3 linked regions of the Homo sapiens genome follow. The protein of the gene in region 1 interacts with the protein of each later gene in a pairwise test. Each region holds a gene or a part of one and is shown in the gene's direction. Other genes may lie near its edges.

Region 1 (7,385 bases):
GAAAAATTTTTATGCACATTCATAAAGAGATATAAACAAACATGTTCCCAACAGTATTACTTATAATAGTAAAAACTGTCATCAGAATGTGAATGTGGTGAGTTTATACAATTAACTATTATGCAGCATCAAAAATCAGTCAACCAGAGTGACACATATGAATATGAATCATTATTATTTACATAATGTTGATATTTTAAAAATCAAAAGCAATTTGCAAAAGAATGCATACTGTATTATATCATTTATATAAGGGTTACCTATGCTAAGCGATACAAAAATATTGTTAGTACTCAAAGTGCACAAAATGTATGAATGTATAAATGTACAAATAAATACAAAATTTAGAAATGAGGTTATCTTTTGTGTGTGGGGGAATGGGGTGGACAGAGAGAGGAATGGGAGAGGAGGCTTCAGTCATATCCATAATGCTTTCTTAATGGGCATAATGGGTATATCAGTGGTCACTGTATTTTTTCATCTTAGGCAAATTAATGTTTACAAAATAATTATTCAAATGAATTAAAATCCACAATAAAGAAGCATTTTCTTTAGCTAGAACAGATTGTTAATTTGAGAGGCCAATTTCATAGTAAAAGCCCTCTAACAAATTCATTTGAAGAAAAATCTTAATGACCTACCTCCATTTTCTATTCAGAACCTCAGCCTGGTTTTTCAAAAACTAACCACAACAAAGCATCACTGTCCACCCTTACAGTACCCCACTCATACTGATCCTGTCTTACTAAGGTCTACTGTCTCTGAGGTTTTCAGACCTTCATCTTCATGCATCAAAATTCAGTAATGTTTTCTATTTCCCTAATTACCAGTATCTAATTAAGCCAATCCTGTTAAGATACTAACAACTCAAAAACTAAAAGTGTTATCCTGTCTATATGTACTTTTATTTTAATGAGTAATTGCCAAAGGGGATATCTTTTACGACAAGTGTAGCATTTCAGGCATCCAAAGGGAAATATTCAAAGATATTTGACATCTTATTGTTTAATATCGCCATGAGTTTTATTTTCAAATAAGGTTAGTCTTGCTTATCCTAAGAAGCATTATCATTTCAAAGATTTTAGCAGTGTGGGTCAAAGAAATTGATTAACAACTTGCAAAATTTTATAGCCTTAATGTCTAAACATTTATAGATGTAATAGGAACATCAAATCTGTTAAAACTGCCTTGATCTAATTTGTAAAATGGTGATAGTTTTTAGTGTTGGGCCTCTGCTTGAACAACATCCAAAGTATATTTAGCATTTATCTTTCTCCAATTTTTAGACAGTCATCTGCATTTCCAGAGGGTTGATGACAGGGCAGCTTGAAGTTTAAAGACAGCACCTGCATTTGCATTTCAATAGTTCCATAATTCTATGAAACCACTGAAATCTCTTCAATGTCTCATTGTTTAAATAGTAAAGGTGGCCAGATTTTGTTCAAGATTCATAATCTTACAAAAATATGGAGCCGTTGTATTCAAAGCTTATTCTAAAGAGAATACCTTCTCTTTACACCTTATAATCCTGTTTGTTAAAACCCATAACAATTAGGTGGACATCTGAACATATTTAAAGTATTTTATCCATTGGATTTTTATGGTCCAAAATCAAGATTCTAGGACAAGATAAATGGGAAAGGAGGACATGTAGTTTGAAATGTGTTATATCAGCACCATCAATTTTTAATTCGGGGTTCCAAAATTATCTTTTTCTCCATTGGAAAGGAATACGTTTGTTTCCACGTAGGAAACTACTTCCACTTAACACACAGAAGGTAACTTCATTGGTAGGTATGCTGCCTGTATGCAAGGATCTGCAGTTACTCATAACTGGCTGTGTTTTTAAACAGAATAATTTTTGTCAAATATTTTGATACAAAACAATGAAGCCTGAAGTTAAAATAAGAAATTCTGGGCTCAAGTGCAGGGCAACTGGACACCCTTATGAGATGAGCCTTTGTGCCCTTCCTGTAAGTGTGGATTAGATTATCCACCACCTAGATTTAAGAAAGGATTAAATGAAAGAATATATGTGAAAGTACTGTGTTGACTGTATTAAAAAGAACTGGAAACCCATAAAGGACCGCTATAATTGTGTAATTGTTGCGCCAGGTTATTTTGTCAATACATTTTTAATCAGCACCTAAAATATTTCATGTCACTTCATCCAGCAGAGACATTGAGATGTGGCAAAATGTTTAAAAGGACAACACTATAGGTGAAAAAAAAACAGAGCACAACAGTAGTCAATTCAAAAAAAATTCTTTTAACAATTTTATTCCATTTCCTTGCCATTTTCAGAGCCCTTTCTTTTGGTGTTTTGTAACAATATAAAAAACGATCTGGCTTTTCAAAATATACTCCTTTTCCTTTCTATATGCAAATGATATGAAACACTGGCAAGTTGTCCTTAAAAGTCAGCCCACCTTCATGGCCCAGATAAAGTGGGCAATAATTCCTCTCTAGGTCCTCCGCACATTAGGTGCCAGTCTCTCAAGTCTCTTCCTAGACAATTTCTAGCAGCCAGGAAACATAATTTTTGACCTTGAAGACTTTAGCATTCCAAATCTAAGAATACAATCAGGTGTGTTTTCTTTTGGCAAACTGTGAGCTTACACACACCCCCAGAGTGGCATTTGAATGCTGTGCACAGTCTTGACTGTGTTCGAGGTTAGAGAACTAAAGACAAGATTCTTTCTCTCTTGTAATGAAGAAACAAAAACCACATAGCCTATATTCCACAAAAGAATACCAGCATAATATATCCTTTTTTAAAGATGTAATTCATTAGATGTGTGTAGAGAATAAAAGTGTAAATATAGGCTGGGAACGGTGGCTCACGTCTATAATCCCAGCATTTTGGGAGGCCGAGACAGGTGGATCACCTGAGGTCAGGAATTCGAGACCAGCCTGGGCAACATGGTGAAACCCCCGTCTCTACTAAAAATACAAAAAAAATCATCCGGGCGTGGTGGCACGCGCCTGTAATCCCAGCTACTCGGGAGGCTGAGGCAGGAAGATCGCTTGAACCGGGGAGGAAGAGGTTGCAGTGAGCCGAGATCGCGCCATTGTACTCCAGCCTGGTCAACAAGAGCGAAACTCCGTTTCAAAAAAAAAAAAAAAAAGTGTAAATATAGTACTAGCTTCATTGATATGTCTTGCTGCTTCTGGGACTTTAGAGAAGCGTATAAGAAGAAAGTGTGTGTGCCTTTACGTAAGGGAGCATATGAGAGAGAGAGAGAGAGTGTGTGTGTGTGTGTGTGTGTGTGTGTGTGTGTGTGTGTGTGTCAGAGAGAATGTTCATGGCAGGAGGAGGGGCGGTGAATATATGAAGGGAAGTTGGGAAAACCCTTCCCTTTTTGTGCACTCCCAGGGCAGCAGCCGCAACCCCAGAATGAGGAGAGGACTTAAGAGCAGGCACAAGGTTCGCTGCCATGACTGATGTGAAGCGACCTGACGCACAAGCGGAGACTTTTCTCCTTGGCAGCCAACAACCTGCAGCAGGCAAGGCGGGCGGGGGAGGAAACCCCGAGGAGGCGCTCCCGGCCGCCTCTTTGCTGAGATAGCAGGAGCAGCAGCCTGAGGAGCCACGAGCTCAGCGTCACTGAGCTAGTGCGGGTGCAGGGGCGCTCAGGCAGGCGCACAGGCCGGGAGCCGCTTCTGCCGCTCAGGCGGCCGCGCTGCAGAAAGCCGCGCCGCGCTGCCCGAGCGCCCGGGGCTGGCCCGCGAGCGGGAGGAGCCGGCAGCCGCGCTCCGCCCCGCGCTGAGATTCGTGCCACCTGCCTCGAACACCACGGAGGCGAGAGGAACCCAGAGAGCTCGGCCTCTCGTCCCGTTCTCGAAAAGCAGCCTATCGTGACGGAGCCGGGAGAAGGCTAGCGTTTCAATCCTGTGCAGGACTGGGATTTTTCTTCTCATAATTTGGGGGAGCCGGAGTAGAGGTCAGAGGGACAGGCGAGGATCTCAAAAAGAGACCGAGGGTTGTGAACATGGTTACCCCCTCCTATCATTGGAAAATCTCCTTGACATTTTTCACACTTTGAAGCAGCTGCAGCTGGTGTCGTCGGAAAAGGGGGTGGGAAAAAAGAGAGGGGGCGGGGAGAGCGGTGAGACACAGCCAAGAGCCATGAGCGGCGCCTCCTCGCCTGCCAATCCTGGCACCTGTGCGCCGAGCCACTGCACCGAGGAGGACCCTACTCCGGGTGAACACCGGGCTTGAAGCCACGGACACCCAGCCCCAGTGCAGCGGGTTCTCGCCGGCGGGACCTGCAGCCGCCCACTCGGGCCACCGCCACCGCCTCCTGCAGTTGCGGAGCGCTCAGCCCCTCCGAGACGCCCGCTGCGCCCTGGCCCCTGGGGATCCTCGCCCTGCACAGGCGCGGCAACGGGCAGGGGTTGTTACGGAGTTGGGTGCAGGATTCGCCTTTCCTGCTTGTCTCTTCTCCGCCCAGGATTTATTGTCTGTGGAGCCTTCTGGGGGCGGGGAGGGAGCTGCGCCTCCGCCACCGCCGCCGCCGCCGCCGCTGCTGCTGCGGTCGCTAGCGCGGCGCGCTGGGCAGGCTGAGGCTGGGGAGTGGACGCGCTCCTGCCTCCCCCGCCGGCGCTTCGGGCTTCCCCTCAGCCGCTTCCCGCGGGAACCTCTCCAGCCGTCCACCTGAAGGGCACTGGCATCATGGTCTAACGTGGCACCTTCCTGGATTCCCCTCTATCTCCTGTTCTTCCTACCTTCTACTCCTTCCCTCCTCTTCTCCTCCGAAGACCCTGGCGCCCACTCCACTGCGGACCCCTGAACACTTAAGGAATAACCCTTGGCAGCTGCACGACTACGCTCTCCGAAACCTCATGGGCAGTTTCTCCCGCCGGCGATGTGAGTAAGGCACGCTCGCTCCGTGGCGGAGGGTGCTGCGGGGGCCCGGCCGCGGCGACCGTAGGCGCGCGAGGTGTGGGACCCCAGAGGCCGGCCGGGGGCGGGGGTGGCAGGGCGGGAGGCTTCGGCGCTCGCGGGGAGCTGCTTGTGCGGTGGCCGAGGGAGGCGGCGAAGATGTGGTAGGTTGCAGAGCATTTGGAAATGGGGTGCTAACTGGGCGGGTGCATGGGAGCACCGAGTAGCTTGAGCTGGCAAGAGACCTTAAAGGGTTACATACTGCGAAAAGGAAAGGTAAATGTTGGGCGCTGGTGCTGGGACCATTGGTTCCGCTGAAATTAGGTTTAGCTCCTCGTTATTATCTTGGGTATCTCCAGTCAGCTTTTTTCCCAGAGGTGTCTGAGGGATGAAGCGCGTGTTTGATCGTGACACACACACACACACACTCACACACACTTGTGGCAGGACGCACTTGTCTCTTTATCTTGGAAGGTGTTGTATCAATGTCTCGATGTCTGTTTGAAAAAATACAATTAGAAGATTTTTATGTGATTGGGATTGAAGGGAAAGGGTGGGGTTTGGGGGGATGGAGGGGACGAAGGAACATGAAAGACTGGAGGACGGAAAGAAGTGGGGGAGCGTGTTCCCTGGGAGTCAGGGAGAACCTTGCCTCCCTCCCTGTCAGCTAGACAACTCCTGCCCACACATCTCCTTTGTGTGGCACGAGAAGCTGGTGAACCTGCCTATTCCCAATCCAGCGCTGGGTCCCCTTGAGGATCTTGCGTCCTCCTCTCCGAGTTATTAAGGATGCAGGACGTGTTTCGGATTCGACGTGGAAAGAGGGAGGGAAGCACATTAGCATTAAGGTAATCATGGCACCCTGGCTCGTGGACTATTAGATTGGCTACCAGTGGTCTCTAATCTTACTGTTTGCAGAGTCAAGAATGGGGGCGGGGGTTGGGGGACTGTATAGATTGCCTTTTAAAATAGTGTGACTTCATAATAACGGAGATGGCTGAAAGATTGCTTCCTTACACTACTTCTCGGCCATCAGGGCTGAATAAAGGACCCGCCTCCGCCCTCTACTCCGGCTCTTCTCTGGCTGTCTCTTCCCCATCAAGTCATAAAGCGAGCGGGTTGGGCGAGAGGGCACAGCTCGAGGCAGAGAAGAGACGGGGTCACTTTCACAACTCCCAGGAATCGGCTTCAGAAAGGAACCATCTGCGACTCCCACGTTCCTTTCGAAGTTCTCCTTCAAAAGGAATTACAAAAAAAAAAAAAAAAAAAAAAGCGATGGGGGTGGGGATCGGTAAGACACAGGGGTCCTCCCCCTGCTCTTTTCAATTACTTTCCCAATACTCTTTCAACACATCGAATTTACCTGCAGTGGTAACTGGGTCAGCAGGTAAATAGATTTGTATCTGTATATGTCGAAATGTGGCTCTCCTGGTGGATGAAAAGCAATTTTTTGTGAGCATATTCTAACCTAGGCGAAATTTCTAAGCACAATAGAGATTTTTATAGCGTGGGCGAGAAGAGTGCATTCCAGCGAAAGCAGGACACGTGATCCCTCCAACGGGTGAGATACAGTATTAGGAACTCGATTTTCTTTGTTCCAGCCTGAGCCTATGAGATGTTCAGCATCCTGGTTGCTTAAGTCCTCCTATAGAAGGAAAATAATAATAATAATAATAATAAAGTTGATCGGAGGCGAAATAGAGGGAAAATAAGCACAGGTAGACATGCGTGAACGGTTTGAAAGCTTCGCCTCTGCCTTTTTTTACCGCCCACCCTTCACCCCCACCCCTTGCTCCAGCCAGCCCCCTATTTTAAAATGAGGCATTTCCTCTGGGAGACGGTGGAAAAGTTCTCCAGCCCCTGCACACGTGGGTTCTCCAGCACTTCAGAACCTGCTGTGATTCGCAACAGATTACACCACCTTCCCAGTCCAAGTGTCACGCCTCCGTCCAGGCTTCCTTGAATTGGCTTCCAGGAAGGACTCTAAGGGAACTACCACGAGGTGTTTTTTGTTTGTTTGTTGTTTTTTGTTTGTTTGTTTTTACAAAAGACAGTAAAGCAATGAAGTCTTTACTTTTTAGAAATCATTGATTGCACAGGGGGAAAAATGAGCAAATAGGGATGTAGGAATGATTTTATGTTTCCTTAAGAGTCATATGGCTAAAGTATATTGGGGGTGTGTTTAGTGATTGAGTTTGGACTTCTGAGGTGTCTCAGGCCTGTGGAAAATGTCCTGAGGTCAGAATATTTATTAATTTAGTGGAGATATAACTTGTTTATGACCCAACATTTAGAGTTACCTGACTTGGAGATTTCTTATTTCATTTTCACTTAATGTTTTATAATCCATCTTAGTAGGCTAAAGTTTTTAAAAGGTGGTTTATTTATGTGTTATGCTGCATTGCATCATACTAATATGTAATGATAAGAAAAACAGTCAATTTTCATGACTTATTATGAGGTGAGAGTTCTTTATACATTTTTAAGAAAAAACTGACTA
Region 2 (7,500 bases), on another chromosome or scaffold:
AGCCCAGGAAGAAACAACAAAAAATAGGTAAATTGGAGTTCATAAAAAATGTGAAACTTTTATATCAAAGGACATTTTCAAGAAAGTGAAAGACAACCTACAGAATGGGAGAAAATATTTGTAAATCCTATGTCTGATAACATCCAGAATATGTAAAGAACACCTACAACTCGGCCGGGTGCGGTGGCTCACGCCTGTAATCCCAGCACTTTGGGAGGCCGACGTGGGCGGATCACCTAAGGTCGGGAGTTTGAGACCAGGCTGACCAACATGGAGAAACCCTGTCTCTACTAAAAATATAAAATTAGCCAGGCGTGGTGGCGTATTCCCGTAATCCCAGCTACTCGGGAGGCTGAGGCATAAGAATCACTTGAACCCAGGAGGCGGAGGTTGCGGTGAGCCGAGATCTCGCCATTGCACTCCAGCCTGGGCAACAAGAGCAAAACTCCGTCTCAAAAAACAAACAAAAAACCTACAACTCAACAACAAATAGACAAACAACCCAATTAAATGGTCAACAAAGGACTTGAATAGACATTTCTCCAAGGAAGGTATACAAATGGCCAGTAAGCACATGAAAAGATGCTCAAAGTCATTAGTCCTTAGGGAAATGCAAATCAAAACCACAATGAGATACCACTTCGCACTTGCTAGGATGGCTATAATTTAGAGGGAAAAAAAAGAAACATAACAAATGTGCGTGAGAATGTAGAGAAGTTGGAACCTGTGTACATTGTTGGTGAAAATGTGAAATGGTGTAGACGCTGTGGAAAACAGTTTGGCTGTTCCTCAGAAAGCTAAACATAGAATGACCATAGAATTGTAATACCGACAATTCCACTCCAAGGTGTATAACCAAAATTATTGAACACAGGGACTGAAACAGATACTTGTACACCAATAATCATTGCAATATTATTCACAATAGTCAAACAACAGATGAGTGGATAAACAATGCCTGGTACCCTTCCTTCCTTCCTTCCTTCCTTCCTTCCTTCCTTCCTTCCTTCCTTCCTTCCTTCCTTCCTTTCTTTTTCTTTCTCTCTTTCTTCTTTCTTTTCTTTCTGTCAGTCTTGCTCTTGTTGCCCAGGCTTGAGTGCAATGACACAATCTCAGCTCACCGCCACCTCTGCCTCCTGGGTTCAAGTGATTCTCCTGCCTCAGCCTCCCGAGTAGCTGGGACTACAGGTGCACACCACCATGCCCAGCTAATTTTTGTGTTTTTAGTAGAGATGGGGTTTCCCCACGTTGGCCAGGCGGTATACACATTTTTCTATTATTCGGCCATAAAAAGGAATGAAGTTCTGATGCATACTACAACATGGATGAAACTCAGCAACAAGGTTTTTGAGGAAAAAAAGCTTAGTGAAAAGGCCACATCTTGTAGGATTCCACTTATATGAAATACATGCAATAGACAAATTCATGGAGACAGAAAGTAGATTAGAGGCTACCAGGAGTGGAAGGAGGGGAGAATGGGGATTTATTATCCAATGAGTGCAGTGTTTCTATTTGTTTTTGTTTTTGTTTGAGACAGGGTCTCGCTCTGTCATCCAGGCTGGAGTGCAGTGCCACGATCTCAGCTCACTGCAGCCTCCGCCTCCTGGGTTCAAGCAATTCTCCTGCCTCAGCCTCTGAGTAGCTGGGATTACAGGTGTACACCACCTGGCAAATTTTTGTAGAGATGGGGTTTCGCCATGTTGGCCAGGCTGGTCTCAAACTTTTGACCTCAGGTGATCTGCATGCCTCTGCCTCCCAAAGTGCTGGGATTACAGGCGTGATCTATGGCCCCTGACCCAAGTGTTTCTATTTGGGATGATGAAAACGTTTTGAAAATAAATAGTTGTAATGGTTGCACAGCACTCTAAAGGTAATTTATGCCACTGAATTGTACACTTAAAATGGTGAAAATAGAAAATTTCATGTTATACAGATTTTGCTACCCAAAAAACAAAACAAAAAATCCAAAACCTTTATGTTATTATGAAGAAGCAGTTTTCCAAAGGAATAGGGATGCTGGTAGCAGAAGGGAAAGAAATCTCATTAAATAAAAACAAAAGCAATGACCTCTTCAGGAGGTGGCTCAGCTAGTTTAGCTTTACCTTAGCACCATGATGGTTCATTTTATTCAGAAATAGAAACATGGGGCGTTGGGGAGAAGAGGAGATGTGTACCTGCCTCACCTGCCTCCCTGCCCAGAATGCCGACTCCGACTCTTGCTTTCCACTAAGGCTGGGGATTAAATGAAAAGTGAGAATCTGGAAACCCCCAGAGATGATGTTTGTCGTTGGAGCTGATTTTATCTCATTTTAGTAGCATGACCTCCTCCTCAAACTCAGGATGCAATTATGGTCAATCTCATTAGTGTGCAGTAATTGCTCAGCCCCAATACCAGATTAGCAGGAAGTTCTGTTATTTTCCTTTTGAGGATGGGCTCCTACTGAACTGTCCTGGAATCTACCACCATTCAGGTTACAAAAGACCCAGGGAACTAGGCCAGTCCAGCTCCCAACCCCAAGCAGGGAGCAACTTGCTCAGTCCACGTTGTGATAGCTCCTCGCTGCCACAAGGTGGTGATGTTGCATCACACACGCGCATGATGGGCGCGCAGGCGCCAATGCTCCCAGGACCTGCTGTTCCATTCCTAAATGAAAGTTGTTCCCAGGATCTGGACTCACAAGACAAGGCAGCCTATTCCCTGCTGGGGAGCTCAGGGGCAAGAGGGCATCTCGGAGGGAGGGCACATTCTCACCTCTGAAGACAAGGAGAACATCATCAGCACATAGACCAATCCCAGCAGTGCACCTTAGGATGGGGAGGGCCACTGTGAGTTACAGCAAAATGAACGAATGAATGAACCAATAAATGTCTGAGAGGGAAAGTCCCAACGACCCTCAGGAGGTACAATCAAGAGTTGCAGTTATTTTCGTTAGGAACGTTCTAAACACAGGGGAAACCTTCCTTCCTTCTGCTCTATTGTTGGAGTGGGGCCATCCCGGGACACCAGAAATCAAGGAATTGAGTTTGGAGAAGGGACTTGGGGAGGTCACAGTGGCAGGTGACTGCCAAATGAGGTGGCAGAAGCCAGCAAGCGCTGGAAAAAGTCGGCCCAAACTGTTCACCAGCACCGCCCCCCATAACTCCCCACCGGCTCTGGTTTCAAGACTTTCCGTTTTCTAGGTATTTCCTTGGCCTTAAACCATTTTCCTTTAAACGAACTTTTTCTGTGAAGCCATCCGGTTTCCCCCGATAGTGGCATCTCACAAAGGACAATCCAGTATCCCAACAGCGTGTTGCGTTCCGCGGGACGCAGATTTCCTTCACAGGCACCCCCCGGGTTGCGTTTTTATAGCCACACCCACCCGCCCCCCTATCTCCTGGGCACTGCTAATGAGTCCTGCATTTCTCTCCTTTGGTCTTTGGATAAATGAACCATCCGTGCGTGACCTTTGCGAGGGCATCTTGCATAATACCAGTACACCAGCGGCGCCGTCGGTGAGTGACCTTTGGGACTGGTTTCTCTCACCAGCGTAACTCCCCGGGAGATCCGAGCAAGCTGATGAGTGTATCAGTGGCTCATTCTTTCTGTTGCACCACGGACCCTCATTCTGTAACCGGGATACCAGCCAGAGATGGGGAGCGGGAGGCGCAGGGCAGGGGCGTCCCTCCTCTCAGCACAGCCTCCCCGCGCTGGATTTCTATCAATCCAGTTTCCACCTGCCTGGAAGTCAGCAGGGTCCTCCCCAGTCCCAGATCGCCGGGCGAGGCCCCAGATGGACCTCAGGGGCGGGGAGTGGGCGGAGCTTAGGGGCCGAGGCGAGGTGTGGGTGGGGCGGGACGCCGCTGTGGAGGCGGGGCCTGGGCGCGGACGGGCGCGGAGCGAGGCACCGCACCGCCGGGGCGGGGAGTGGGCGGGGCTCGGGGGCGGGGCGGGGTGTGGGCGGGGCTCACGGGCGGGGCGGGTGAGTGGGCGGGGCCTCGGCGTGGTAGGCGCGCTGCGTAAAGAGGCCTGCAGTCCCGCGGCGCGGGGCAGGTTCCGGGCTGCTTAGGTTGGCACCGGTCCGTGGTCCCCGGGGGCGCAGTCGCAGCGCTCCCGCCCTCCAGGCGTCAGCGAGTGCGCGGTCCAGTGCGGCCGGAACCTGGCGCAACTCCTAGAGCGGTCCTTGGGGAGACGCGGGTCCCAGTCCTGCGGCTCCTACTGGGGAGTGCGCTGGTCGGAAGGTGAGTGATCCCCTGTCGGGGACCGGGGGACTTGGGAAGGACAGTTCCCGGACTGGACGGCCAGAACGCTCTCAGGGATTTCAGCTGGCCGGCCATATGGCCCTGTGGGTCGTCGCGCCCGGGCCAGGGACCATTCTGTACATAGGATCGTGCTTGGCTCTCACGGAACGCGCCCACACGCAGGGTCCCGGTGTCGAATCGTCTGGTGGAATCTGCCCTCAACCCTATGGAGCGGGTGCTGGTATCATAGTCATATTACAAGTAGGAATCAGCGGGCCCAAGGTCAGTCTGTAAAGGGGGTACCGGGGTTTAGGCCCGTGCGCTGCCCAGCGCTGCCCTGAAGGCGCGGCTGAACCACTGGTTTGCGCTGCCTTTGTCAAGGACATTGTGGCACTGTGGAAAAAATGAAAAATCAGCTTCTCTAACCTATAATCTCTCTGGGAAAAAAAAAAATCAGCTTTTTTTTTTTTCCCCGAGACGGAGTCTCACTCTGTCGCCCAGGCTGGAGTGCAGTGGCACGATTTCGGCTCACTGCAACCTCCGCCTCCCGGGTTCAAGCAATTCTCCTGCCTCAGCCTCCCGAGTACCTGGGATTATAGGGGCGTGCCACCACGCCTGGCTAATTTTTTGTATGTTTAGTAGAGACGGGTTTCATGTTGGTCAGGCTGGTCTCAAACTCCTGACCTCGTGATCCGCCCGCCTGGGCCTCCCAAAGTGCTGGGATTGCAGGCGTGAGCCACTGCTCCCGGCCCTCTTTTTCTTTTTTCTTTTTTTTTTAGAAGAGTCTCACTCTGTTGCCCAGGCTGGAGTGCAGTGGGGCAATCTCAGCTCACTGCAACCTCTGCCTTCCAGGTTCAAGCGATTCTCCCCCCTCAGCCCCTTGAGTAGCTGGGATTACAGGCGCCTGCCACCATGCCCGGCTAATTTTTGTATTTTTAGTACAGGTGGGAGTTTCACCATATTGGCCAGGCTGGTCTTGAACTCATTCTTCTTCCTTTCTTTTTCTTTTTTTTTTTTTTTTGAGATGGAGTTTCACTCTTATTGCCCAAGCTGGAGTGCAATGGCACAATCTCAGCTCACTGCAACCTCTGCCTCCCGGGTTCAAGCTATTCTCCTGCCTCAGTCTCCCGAGTAGCTGGGATTACAGGTGCGTGCCACTACACCCAGCTAATTTTTGGTATTTTTAGTAGAAATGGAGTTTCACCATATTAGTCAGGCTGGTCTCAAACTCCTGACCTCAGGTGATCCGCCTGCCTCGGCCTCCCAGAGTGCTGGGATTAATGAACCACTGCGCCCGGCCAAAAATCAGCTTCTTTAACCTTTAATCTCTGAAAAAATAAATCAGTTTAACCTTTAATCTCCGAAGATCACAGCCAAAGAAATACATGAAAAGGAACAAGTATTAAATAATATATACTTCTAGCTGTGCTGTTTATAGTTTTGGGAAAAAAATGGAAATAACCTAAGGTCCCAGAAATAGGAAAATGGGCACAAAAGGGTATGCAGGCAATGGTTTAGCTGCCGCATGAATACACACTGAATACACTGTGAGATGTTGTCTGTTAGAATGCCCAGCACGGGGACTGTCCACATGGAAAGAGGCACAGGAAAAAAAGTGAAAACATTATAAAATAACTTCTTAAAATTAAATAATGTACACGTCAAAAATATCAGAGCCCACTTGACCTGGTATATACAGTTTAATAACCACATGGCTCTTTTTTCCTGTAGGCCTGGGTAGGTGCATAGTTTCTAAAAAGGGAGAGAACTGTCACTGCTGTGGATGGGGTGCCAAGGGAAGTGCCTGGGGTCAAGTGAACAGTGACACAACTGCAAGTCAAGAGCCTGTGTTGGAGTCTTTCCCCACTATTTCAAATAGTATAGAAAATAGAGCTGAGTCACTCAAATAGAGCTGAGTTAGTCACTCAGCTCTTGGACCTCAGATTCTTATTCTTAACCGCTAGGGGGATGGAGACAGAAGTCACAAACTCACATGCCACCAGCCATATGATGTAAACATGTAAACTGGGCCAAGGAATACAAAAGGGAGTGGTGAGCTGGGGACACTGAAGAATGGATGCCCTGTCTAGAGGAGTGAAAATGAAGCATTTCATACAAACAACATGATTTCGGGCAATCACTTTGGGAATCAGGATAAGGTGTTCCCCCAGTCTGCAGAAACACTGGCAACATTTACAAAGGTAAATCATTTCATATCACTCTATTTTCTTTTTCTTTTTTGAGACAGAGTCTTGCTCTGTTGCCCAGGCTGGAGTGCAATGGCACAATCTTGACTCACTGCAACCTCCACCTCCCAGGTTCAAGTGATTCTCCTGCCTCAGCCTCCCAAGTAGCTGGGACTACAGGCACATGCCACCATACCCGGATAATTTTTGTATTTTTTAGTAGAGATGGTGTTTTGCCACATTGACCAGGCTGGTTTCAAACTCCTGACCTCAGGTGATCCCCCCACCTCGGCCCCCCAAAATGCTGGGATTACAGGTGTGAGCCACCACAACTGGCGATCATTCCATATTACTCTCCAGCTTAAGAGGCTCCAAGGGCTTTCTGTCAGGCTTAGAATAAAATCCTCACCCCTACCCTAGGAGGGGTCAGGTCAGACCCCTCCCACCTCCCTGACTGCATCTACCACCATCCACTCTTTTTTTTTTTGAACCACAGTTCAGCCAAACAGGCTTTCTTTTTTTTCTTTTACTTTCTCTTTTTTCTTGAAACAGAGCCTAACTCTGTCACCCAGTCTGGAGTGGAGCAATCCTCTAATCTCAGCCCCCTGAGTAGCTGGGATTACAGGCATGCACCACCACACCTGGCTAATTTTTAAAAATCTTTGGTAGAGATGGGATCTCACTATGTTGCCCGGGCTGGTCTCAAATTCCTAGGCTCAAGTGATCTCCTGCCTCAGCCTCTCAAAGTGCTGGGCCTTCTGCTTCCCTGGGCTTTGCCAGGCCTCCCTATGCATTGTGATAGCCAAAGTTTGCTTTCTACAAAGTCACCTCCAGGCAGTGACTGTCCACCAGGGCACTGTAGAGCCTCCCAGCTAATGATGAAGTCACTCACTCTCCTCTCTTTTTCCTTTAAGATAATCCCTTTCCAGACCCGCCATTTTGGCTCACCCTGTAAGTTACAGCCCCACTTCTCACTGCCAAGTGTGGGTGTCACTGCTGGCTCAGGGAGCATGGATCCTGTAAACTTGCCTCATCGGGAGGCTTTGAGGAGTGACCCCCAGGAACTAGACAAGTAACTTGTTCTTCACAATCA
Region 3 (8,215 bases), on another chromosome or scaffold:
CAAGAAAATAAGATAATATTTGATAAAGCCCATTAAAAAGTGGGAAAAGGACATGAACAGACACTTTTCAAAAGAAGACATACATGTGGCCAACAAGCATATGAAAAAAGTTCAATATCACTGATCATTAGAGAAATGCAAATCAAAACCACAATGAGATAACATCTCATACCAGTCAGAATGGCTACTATTAAAAAGTCAAAAAATAACAGGTGCTGGAGATATTGCAGAGAAAGAAGAACACTTTTACACTGTTGTGAGTGTAAATTAGTTCAACCATTGTGGAAAGTAGTGTGGCGATTCCTCAAAGAGCTAAAAGCAGAATGACCATTCAACCCAGCAATCCCATCACTGGGTATATAACCAAAGGAATATAAATCATTCTATCATAAAGACACATGCACATGTATGCTCACTGAAGCACTATTAATAATAGCCAAGACATGAAATCAACCTAAATGTCCATCAGTGGTAGACTGGATAAAGAAAATGTAATACATATACACCATGGAATACCATGCAGCCACATAAGAACAAGATTACGTCCTTTGCAGAAACATGGATGGAGCTGGAGGCTGTCATCCTTAGCAAACTAATACAGGAAGAGAAAACCAAATAGCGCATGTACTCACTTATAAGAAGGAGGTAAATGATGATAACACACAGACACAAACATGGGAACAATAGACACTGGGGCCTACTCTAGGGTGGAGGTTGGGAGGAGGGAAGAGAATCAGAAAAAATGACTATTGAGTAATAGGCTTAGTACCTGGGTGATGAATTAATAAGTATAACAAACCCCTGTGGCACAAGTTTACCTGTTTACAAACCTACATATATACTCCAAACCCAAAATAAAAGTTAAAAAAAAACCCAAAAGAATTTTCTGAATGGTTAAAAAAAGTAACATACGCACAACGTAAAACTTACCATTTTAACCATTTTCATACAGTTTAGTGGCATTATGTACGTGTACATCGTTGTGGAACCATCACTACCATCCATCTCTAGAACTTTCTTCCATCTTGCAAAATAGAGTTATGTTGAGTAATTCATATGCAATGCCCAGGCATACAGCTCTGATATGCTAGCTCCTAAGATATCTCTGGCACTTAACTAGCTGTGAGAACTTGGGCAACTCATTTGACCATTTGGTCATCCACAGAATGGGGTTAATATTTACCTCACAGAACTGGCAAAAGGACAAAATAAGATAATATTTGATAAAGCATTTTAAAAACTGGAAAACATTTTATGGTTGCTACTTATAATCATTATTATTATTAACATAGAAAATGTGAAGATCTTTTATAGAAAGCTGAGACCATTTATTGTGATCATTTTATAAATATTGTTATACATTTAGGTTACCATCTATTCAGATTTATCATTACACATATCTTTTACTTTTTTATTGATTGATTATATCTAGAATGGAATACTAGATATAATCTACTAGAATGGAAGATCCATGAAAGCAATGATTTTTTAAAATTATTTTACCCATTGCTCTATTTCAGAGCCGAGAAGAATATAAGGCATATCTATCTCTTGAATAATGAAAGAATAAATTACTTTATGCAAGAGTAAATATGTTATTAGTGCTTTAAAAAATTCATTCATAATGATAGTTTACATATAAGTCTTTAGGTTTTCCCAGTGCAAAATTAATACATGTGAATTCCCAAATGAAATATATTTTAAATATGAGGAAATTTCCCAGACTAGTTCAGAGTTAAAAGGAAGCAAGTTTAGGAGTAAACAGGAATTTTAAAAATATATGCAAGTTTTCAAAATATGTTCTGATTTTAAAGTTTTGGGCTATTATCAGTACAATAAAAGATGAGTTCAATTGGGTTAATATAATATAACCAAGGAAATACTTAGAGTATCATTCTCTTTTCTAAACAAAACAGGTTGTAGTAGACAATACTGTTTATCAATACCTTTTTATTTTATTTTATTTTATTTTATTTTTTGAGACAGAGTCTCGCTCTGTCACCCAGGCTGGAATGCAGTGGTGCGATCTCGGCTCACTGCAACCTCCGCCTTCCAGGTTCAAGTGATTCTCCTGCCCCAGCCTCCAGAGTACCTGGGACTATAGGCGTGTCTCACCATGCCCGGCTAATTTTTGTATTTTTAGTAGAGACGGGGTTTCGCCATGTTGGCCAGGCTGGTCTTGAACTCCTGACCTCAGGTGATCCACCCACTTCAGCCTCTCAAAGTGCTGGGATTACAGGCATGAGCCACCGTGCCCAGCCTTCCCCTACATTCTGAATGGAAAGTTAAAATGACAATTTATATCTGTAAAAATTTTGTAATAAAGTATTTTGATGGGAGATAAAGCCATATGCAATCACATGGTTTTAAAAGTGGAGAGTAGTATGTTACAAACATGATATTGAAGACTTCTAGGTTCCTTTATATCAACCCTGATTCTAATATGAGAAGAAACTAAGCCGCTTCTGAGATACATGGGAATAATCCTTCTGAGCTGTTATCACTGCCTAAGACTTTTTATCTTTTTTAGATTTTGCCTTCCATAAAAATGTCTTCTCCAATAATCTTTCCAGTTGTACTATCTTTTCTTTGAATTGTTACTTCTTTTTGGTCGTTGGTACACTGAGTTCTCTAGGGTGATTTTTTGCACCTAAGGGTAAGAATTCAAAATTGTGATGCAGGTATTTACAGTAGAACTCTGAATCCTTGTCTTTCACATTTTTGGAATAATTACTGGGGCTTTACTAGAGTACCTTGCTAAGGTGTGTGTGGCCTTTTTTTTTTTTTTAATTAAAAAACAACGTAAGTGGGAGTGGAATGGGGTAAGGGAGGTGAATCATTCATCAAATGAAAATTTATTTAAATACCGTTGTCTGTGATAAAGGAATAACCATTTCAGAATAACACTGGAAGAATTAATTTAAATGGATGCACTTCCCAATATTGTTACTGTTTTCTTTGGTATTTCATTAACATTGTGAGTGGGGAGGTGCTGGGGTCCATGGTAAAAAAATAAGTAAGTGAAAGGCAAACAACTTTGCTTTCTAGTGGATTTCCCTTATTACCTAATGAGGGCAGCAGCTTACAAGTTGATTGTGTTCAATTCAACAAATTTGTTTTAGTACCTAAGTGCCTGCTATATGTACAGAGTGAAGAAAGAAATAACCCTACCTTTAAGAGAGTTTACGGTCTGGTTGTGTTGATTCACCTTCTGAGAAAAAATGTTATTTGCTTTCCTCAATTTTTTTCCTATCAAAAGTAAACATAGGTTCAAACATTCAAACCTATGAAGGCCTAAAAGGAAGAATCATCTTCAGTTTGCTGTGACGATTTCACTGAGTTTTATTTTAAAATATTCATTTAAAAATACATACAAACATATAAACCCATCAGGCCAGGTTCTAGTGATCTGAGATATAAGCATGATACAAACTACTTGGCTGCCGTGTATTTTTGTTTTATTTTAATCCAGGTGATCAGGTCTGTATGGGGAAAAAGCCCTGGGGCTTTTTCAAACAGGAAGGGCCCTCCTCCCTCTGAATGCCCGCAGTGCCGCCCTGTGCACTTTACAGAACAAGGAGAAAGTCAGTTTCTTCAAACTGCTTTTCTAAAGAGCGTTTCCATTCGTGGTCCTGGTGATTCCACCATCTTTTCTTCACAACAGTGACGGTTCTGGAATTTCTACACAGCCTGAGGGGCTGACGGGGTAGACCAGGTGACTGGGAAGGGGCAGTGGCACATGACAAAAATTTGAGGAAACGTCCAGTTTCCGTTTCAGGGAATGCGCATAGGGGAAAACGCAAGTCCCCACGCCATCACGGGGCCCTCCACCGCGGCCGGACGACCCCTCTCTCGGGAGTGACTGGGGCAGGGCACCTGGCCTCAGGTTCGAGCGGAGCCTGCACTGAGAGGCAGGAGTTGGATGAACCACTTGTAGGGTCTGCTCCCAGCTACCCAAAGCGAAAGGGTGGGCGAAAAAGCATTTGCAAAAGAATACATTAACCTCACAAGGAACGACCCCCACCACCCATCCTCCAGCGCCCAAGGTTTCCCACGAAGAGGTCGCCGTCGCCCTTCTCCAAGTTGGGTAGAACCTATAAGGCATCACCAACTGCATCTCAAACCAACCAAGCAAGTGACGCTCCAAAACCTCCCTAAATACCCTCTCTCCCCAGCATTCCGAACGCAACATCAAGGGCGAAAAGAGGCTGCACAAATCACGTAGAAAATTAGACCGCCTCTTTCCATGGCGATAATCGAATTAGCCTCAAATTAAACGTGAAATTGGCCCTCTCCGGCTGTGGAGACAAAGCCCCTATTGTCCTGCTCGGGTAGCGGCAGCAGCAGTGCCCACCCCGCCCCGGCCAGCCTGGTCGGTCCCCGCCGCTGGGAGGATGAGGTCCGGGCTGGACCCGGGAAGAGCCTCAGCTGGAGAGGACGTGGACGCGCCCGAGGCTCGGCTCCCTGGGCGGCTGCGGGGCTCCGGGCAGGAGGAGAGGGCGGGCGAAGCAGAGGGAGCGGGCGGGAGTGGGGAGGGAGGAGTGCGGAGGGCGGAGGGCGTGCGGGAGGGATCCCGGGAGTGCGCTTGTGTGTGTGTGCGCGCGCGCCCGCCCCGCGCGCTCCTCTCCCCGCCCCTCGCCCCCTCCCTGCGAGCGCCCTCCTCTCCTCCTCCCCCCGCCCCCCGCGCTCCCGCCCAGCCCCCGGAATCAGTGCCGCTGTTGCCGTGCAGGCTGCGGATTCCTCCAGTCCCTCCCTCGGCCGCCTCTCCTCCCGGAGCGAGCGCGCAGCCCTGCGCAGCAGCGCCCACTGGTCCCGTCCTGTGAGCCCCGGCCCCAGCCGCGGACAGACCCGCGGAGTCGCCTCCCGGCCCACCCGCCCGGCCGCCGAGGAGCGGGAGGAGGACGGGACCCCGGCGCCCCCACCCCATCCCCGGGAGGTAGGTAGGGGGCCCGAGGCAGGGAGATGCCAACTCACTGGGGCTGCCTCCCGGGTGGGCTCCGCGGCGGCGGACGGGCGGGAGGAGGGGCGCGGGCCCAGGGCCGGAGGACGCCGCTGCCCGCCTGCCCTGCGCCCGGGGAGCCGCGTGGGGGCAGGGAGGCTGCAAAGCCCGGGCGGGGGCGGCGCGGGGAGCCCGGGTCGCGGGTGCTCATTGGTACTCGGATGATGCGGGACGAGGGGCGGCAGGCTCTGCGGTGAGGCGGCAGCAGACCCGCCGTGCGCACCGCTGCCGTCCGGCCCCAGCCCCGGCGCGGCGCGGCGATTCCTCCTCCCTGCCTCCGCCGGCGCCTCCCTGCAGCCGGGCGCGGCGGCCCCTGACGCGGAGGCCCCTGGCGCGGAGGTGGGTGCGGAGCGGACAGCGGACAGCCGGAGGGTCTATTTTCAGGTGCCCTCTCTGTGGCCCCGCGGGTGGGGAGCGGGGGCGGCGGTGACAGGGCCGGGCTCTGCGCGTAGCGGTGCAGGGGATGCGGCCAGGCGTGGTCCCGGCTGCGCCGCGCTGCAGCTGAGCCGGAGGCGGCGGCCCCGCGCCCCCACCTCCGCCCCATCCCTGCGCTTGCTACCCTCGTGCGCCCGCCCCCCCCCCGCCCTTTCTGCCGTCCCCACTCTCCCAGGGCTGGGCGTGAGCCGCCTCCGGGCGCCGAGCCGCCGCTGCGCCCGCCCTTCAGCTCCTGCCACCCTCTCTTCAACAGGTTTGTCTCAGCGCAGGGACCCTCCGGGCCTGCTTTGGGTAGGTGGGCTGGCTCGTCATCACCCCCCACACCACGCCCACGGCCCTCTTTTAGGGGGCGCCTTCTCTTTGTTTTTGTGATAGGAAAGGTGCCAACTGCTGCCATCAGATGAGGAGGGGGTGGGGATCAGAACGCAAACCTCTGTCCATTATTTTTCCAATCGAAAGCCAGGCCAGATAGTAAGTGAGGACAGGGTGCGTGTGGGGGTGCTTCGGCGGAGCAGAAAATTGAATTCGGTGGGGTTTATTTGGGCGGGGATGTGCTTTTTTGGCAAGATGGATGGCTCACGGTGCCCTCGCCGTGATGCAGCACAATGCAGCAGTATCGCAGCTTCCTTGGTTCTCGCTGGCGGGGCTTGGCACGGCCGCTCGGCGCCTGCGGCCCCCGCCCGGCCCCACCCAGGCCCGGGGCTGCCCTTGGCCGAGGCCTGGAGCTGCTGCTACCTTGTCCTGCAGCTTCTGCTGGATGTGGCGTCAGGAGGACCAGGTCAGCTAGGTGTGAGCAGGGGAGAGTCTTTTCTTTTGGGATGATCCCTCCTGCACCTCTTCTTGGGCTGCGCTCTGCCGGAGGGGCGCCCTGCATCACCAGTGCAGGCAGAGGGGAGCCGGCCTGTGGTTGCGGATCGGAATCTGATCTGCGACCAGGGGACCTGAGCCATAGGGAGGGGCTGCAGGAAGGACTGGGCCCAGTGGTGTGCGGAGGCAATGTTGCAGTGTGGGGAGTCGCAGCGTTTTTCTGTGGATCGTCCATAATCTGTAACCACAACCCAGCTATGCATTAATTTTTTCTACGTGAAAAGTTGGTGTTTATTAATTGGACCTTCACAACTGTGACATTACAGTACCTCGTCTGTCTTTGGTTAATACCAAGTATGCATTTTTTCTGTAGGAAACCATTTTTAAATGAAATGATTAATGCATTTTGGGTTTTATGTCACTAAGACATTTATAAGTATATTAAAATTCAGTAGGTTGTTTTAAAAGGAATTTATATGTTTTTTAATGGATAGTAAATGATTCCTTTAGCTTGTATTTTGTTTTCATCGTTTGCTTTTTCTAAGTCAAGTACAGTTGCATTATTTGGATGCTTTATTAAGGATTATTAGGTGTATGAGTGTCATGATGGGGGCTAAATTGGTATTCAGATTTCTATTGATTGAGGTAGCCAAGTTAAGTGTCCGGGCGTAATTAATGGGATTATGACAGTAACACTGCGTTTGTGTTTGTTTATATGTATTTTTTGTATACATATTTTTCACAGCTGTGACTGGGGAGAGGGTGGAGAAGGGCAGACCACCAAGGCCTCTTGACTGGCATCTAGTCAGAAGGAGATGGTTCCCAGTGTTCTCATGTTTAGTCTCGGCCAGGACACAGGGAATTTCCCTTCTAAATGCCATCTCTATAATTCATTATTCAGTGTGGGATGGCAAATGGGATATATTTCAAATGTCAACCCAGGCTTTCCTAAAATGTTTAGGTGAAAAAGGAAATTTCAATATGCTAGTTGGAAGGGAAGGTCAGTGTTTACAAGCCAAGGGCGTGCCTGCTTGTATTTTTAAATATTTCTAATGAATCCAAGTTAGTTGCTTTTGATTTCATGTGGCTCTGCAGAATAGAACTGCATGTACATTGTGTGGTGTATGTGCGTTATTTTGAGTTTCTCTAATAGCCATTAAAATATGAGACTTTTTGTGCTGGTTGTGTAAAATCGTGTTGCGTACAGATTTTTATGAATGTTGTTCCCATGGATCATCCAAACGTTTTGGATTTACTTTGTTGTAAGAAATATCCTGTGTTGATGTCACAGGAGGTTTAGCTGTTCTGACTTACACAGCAGGTGCAGAATTCTGTTGGGTTAAGCTCTTTGTAACTCTGTCATTACTGGAGTGACCAAAACCTTCATCTGAGAGGAGAAGTATTGGGCAGTGAAGGAACTGCTGTCACTAGGTCGTCTCCCACAGTTGAGGTTTTCTGTGAAGAACTTCTCTTGGGCAAGACTAGTAACAACTATCTGTGATGTTGCAGAGCAAATGAGAAGACCTCCCTCTACTTGTGACACATCCTGAGCAGAGGCTTGGCATTGGCAGAGTTTCCTGGAAGGGTTTGTAGAGTGGTTGCTTTGTCTTGATGTTTGAATGTATGACTTTACATGTGGAAGTACTATTTTGACGTGGAAGGATTTTACTACTGCTAACATAGACATGATTAGTGGAAATCATTCAGTGTGGATTTTGTCGAAATAATTTTAAGCTTTTCTTTTTAATAGCATATTCTTATAGAACATTTTAAAGCCTAATTTTTTTTACGTGCAATGACATGATGCTCCTTTAATTATGTTGCATCGTAACTAGTATCTTCATTATAATTGGGCTTTATTTAATGGCAGCCGTAGTTTCTTTCACTACATTATTGGAAATGCAAACCATTCTTCCAGAAGGAAGGGGCTAACTACCCCTGTTAGAAGAGTGAACTTTGTAGGTCTGTGGAAGT

Evidence for each region. The genes of interacting proteins can lie anywhere in the genome.
Region 2: the proteins of LRRC7 (region 1) and NQO2 interact in a two-hybrid assay, tested with the Homo sapiens proteins (2 studies listed by BioGRID).
Region 3: the proteins of LRRC7 (region 1) and SPTBN1 interact in a two-hybrid assay, tested with the Homo sapiens proteins (one study listed by BioGRID).

The regions. Positions count from the first base shown.
Region 1 is NC_000001.11:69,563,772-69,571,156, forward strand, and holds the start of LRRC7 (leucine-rich repeat-containing protein 7), read left to right. Parts: upstream 1-4,150; 5' UTR 4,151-4,868; coding exon 4,869-4,870; intron 4,871-4,981; exon of another isoform or gene 4,982-5,044; coding exon of another isoform or gene 5,045-5,049; intron 5,050-5,569; exon of another isoform or gene 5,570-5,674; coding exon of another isoform or gene 5,675-5,733; intron 5,734-7,385.
Region 2 is NC_000006.12:2,995,865-3,003,364, forward strand, and holds the start of NQO2 (ribosyldihydronicotinamide dehydrogenase [quinone]), read left to right. Parts: upstream 1-4,029; 5' UTR 4,030-4,221; exon of another isoform or gene 4,222-4,503; intron 4,504-6,185; exon of another isoform or gene 6,186-6,422; intron 6,423-7,500. UniProt on the Homo sapiens protein: The enzyme apparently serves as a quinone reductase in connection with conjugation reactions of hydroquinones involved in detoxification pathways as well as in biosynthetic processes such as the vitamin K-dependent gamma-carboxylation of glutamate residues in prothrombin synthesis.
Region 3 is NC_000002.12:54,451,583-54,459,797, forward strand, and holds the start of SPTBN1 (spectrin beta chain, non-erythrocytic 1), read left to right. Parts: upstream 1-4,744; 5' UTR 4,745-4,936; intron 4,937-5,148; exon of another isoform or gene 5,149-5,383; intron 5,384-5,584; exon of another isoform or gene 5,585-5,725; intron 5,726-5,809; exon of another isoform or gene 5,810-5,905; intron 5,906-6,126; exon of another isoform or gene 6,127-6,221; intron 6,222-6,400; exon of another isoform or gene 6,401-6,595; intron 6,596-7,755; exon of another isoform or gene 7,756-7,826; intron 7,827-8,215. UniProt on the Homo sapiens protein: Fodrin, which seems to be involved in secretion, interacts with calmodulin in a calcium-dependent manner and is thus candidate for the calcium-dependent movement of the cytoskeleton at the membrane.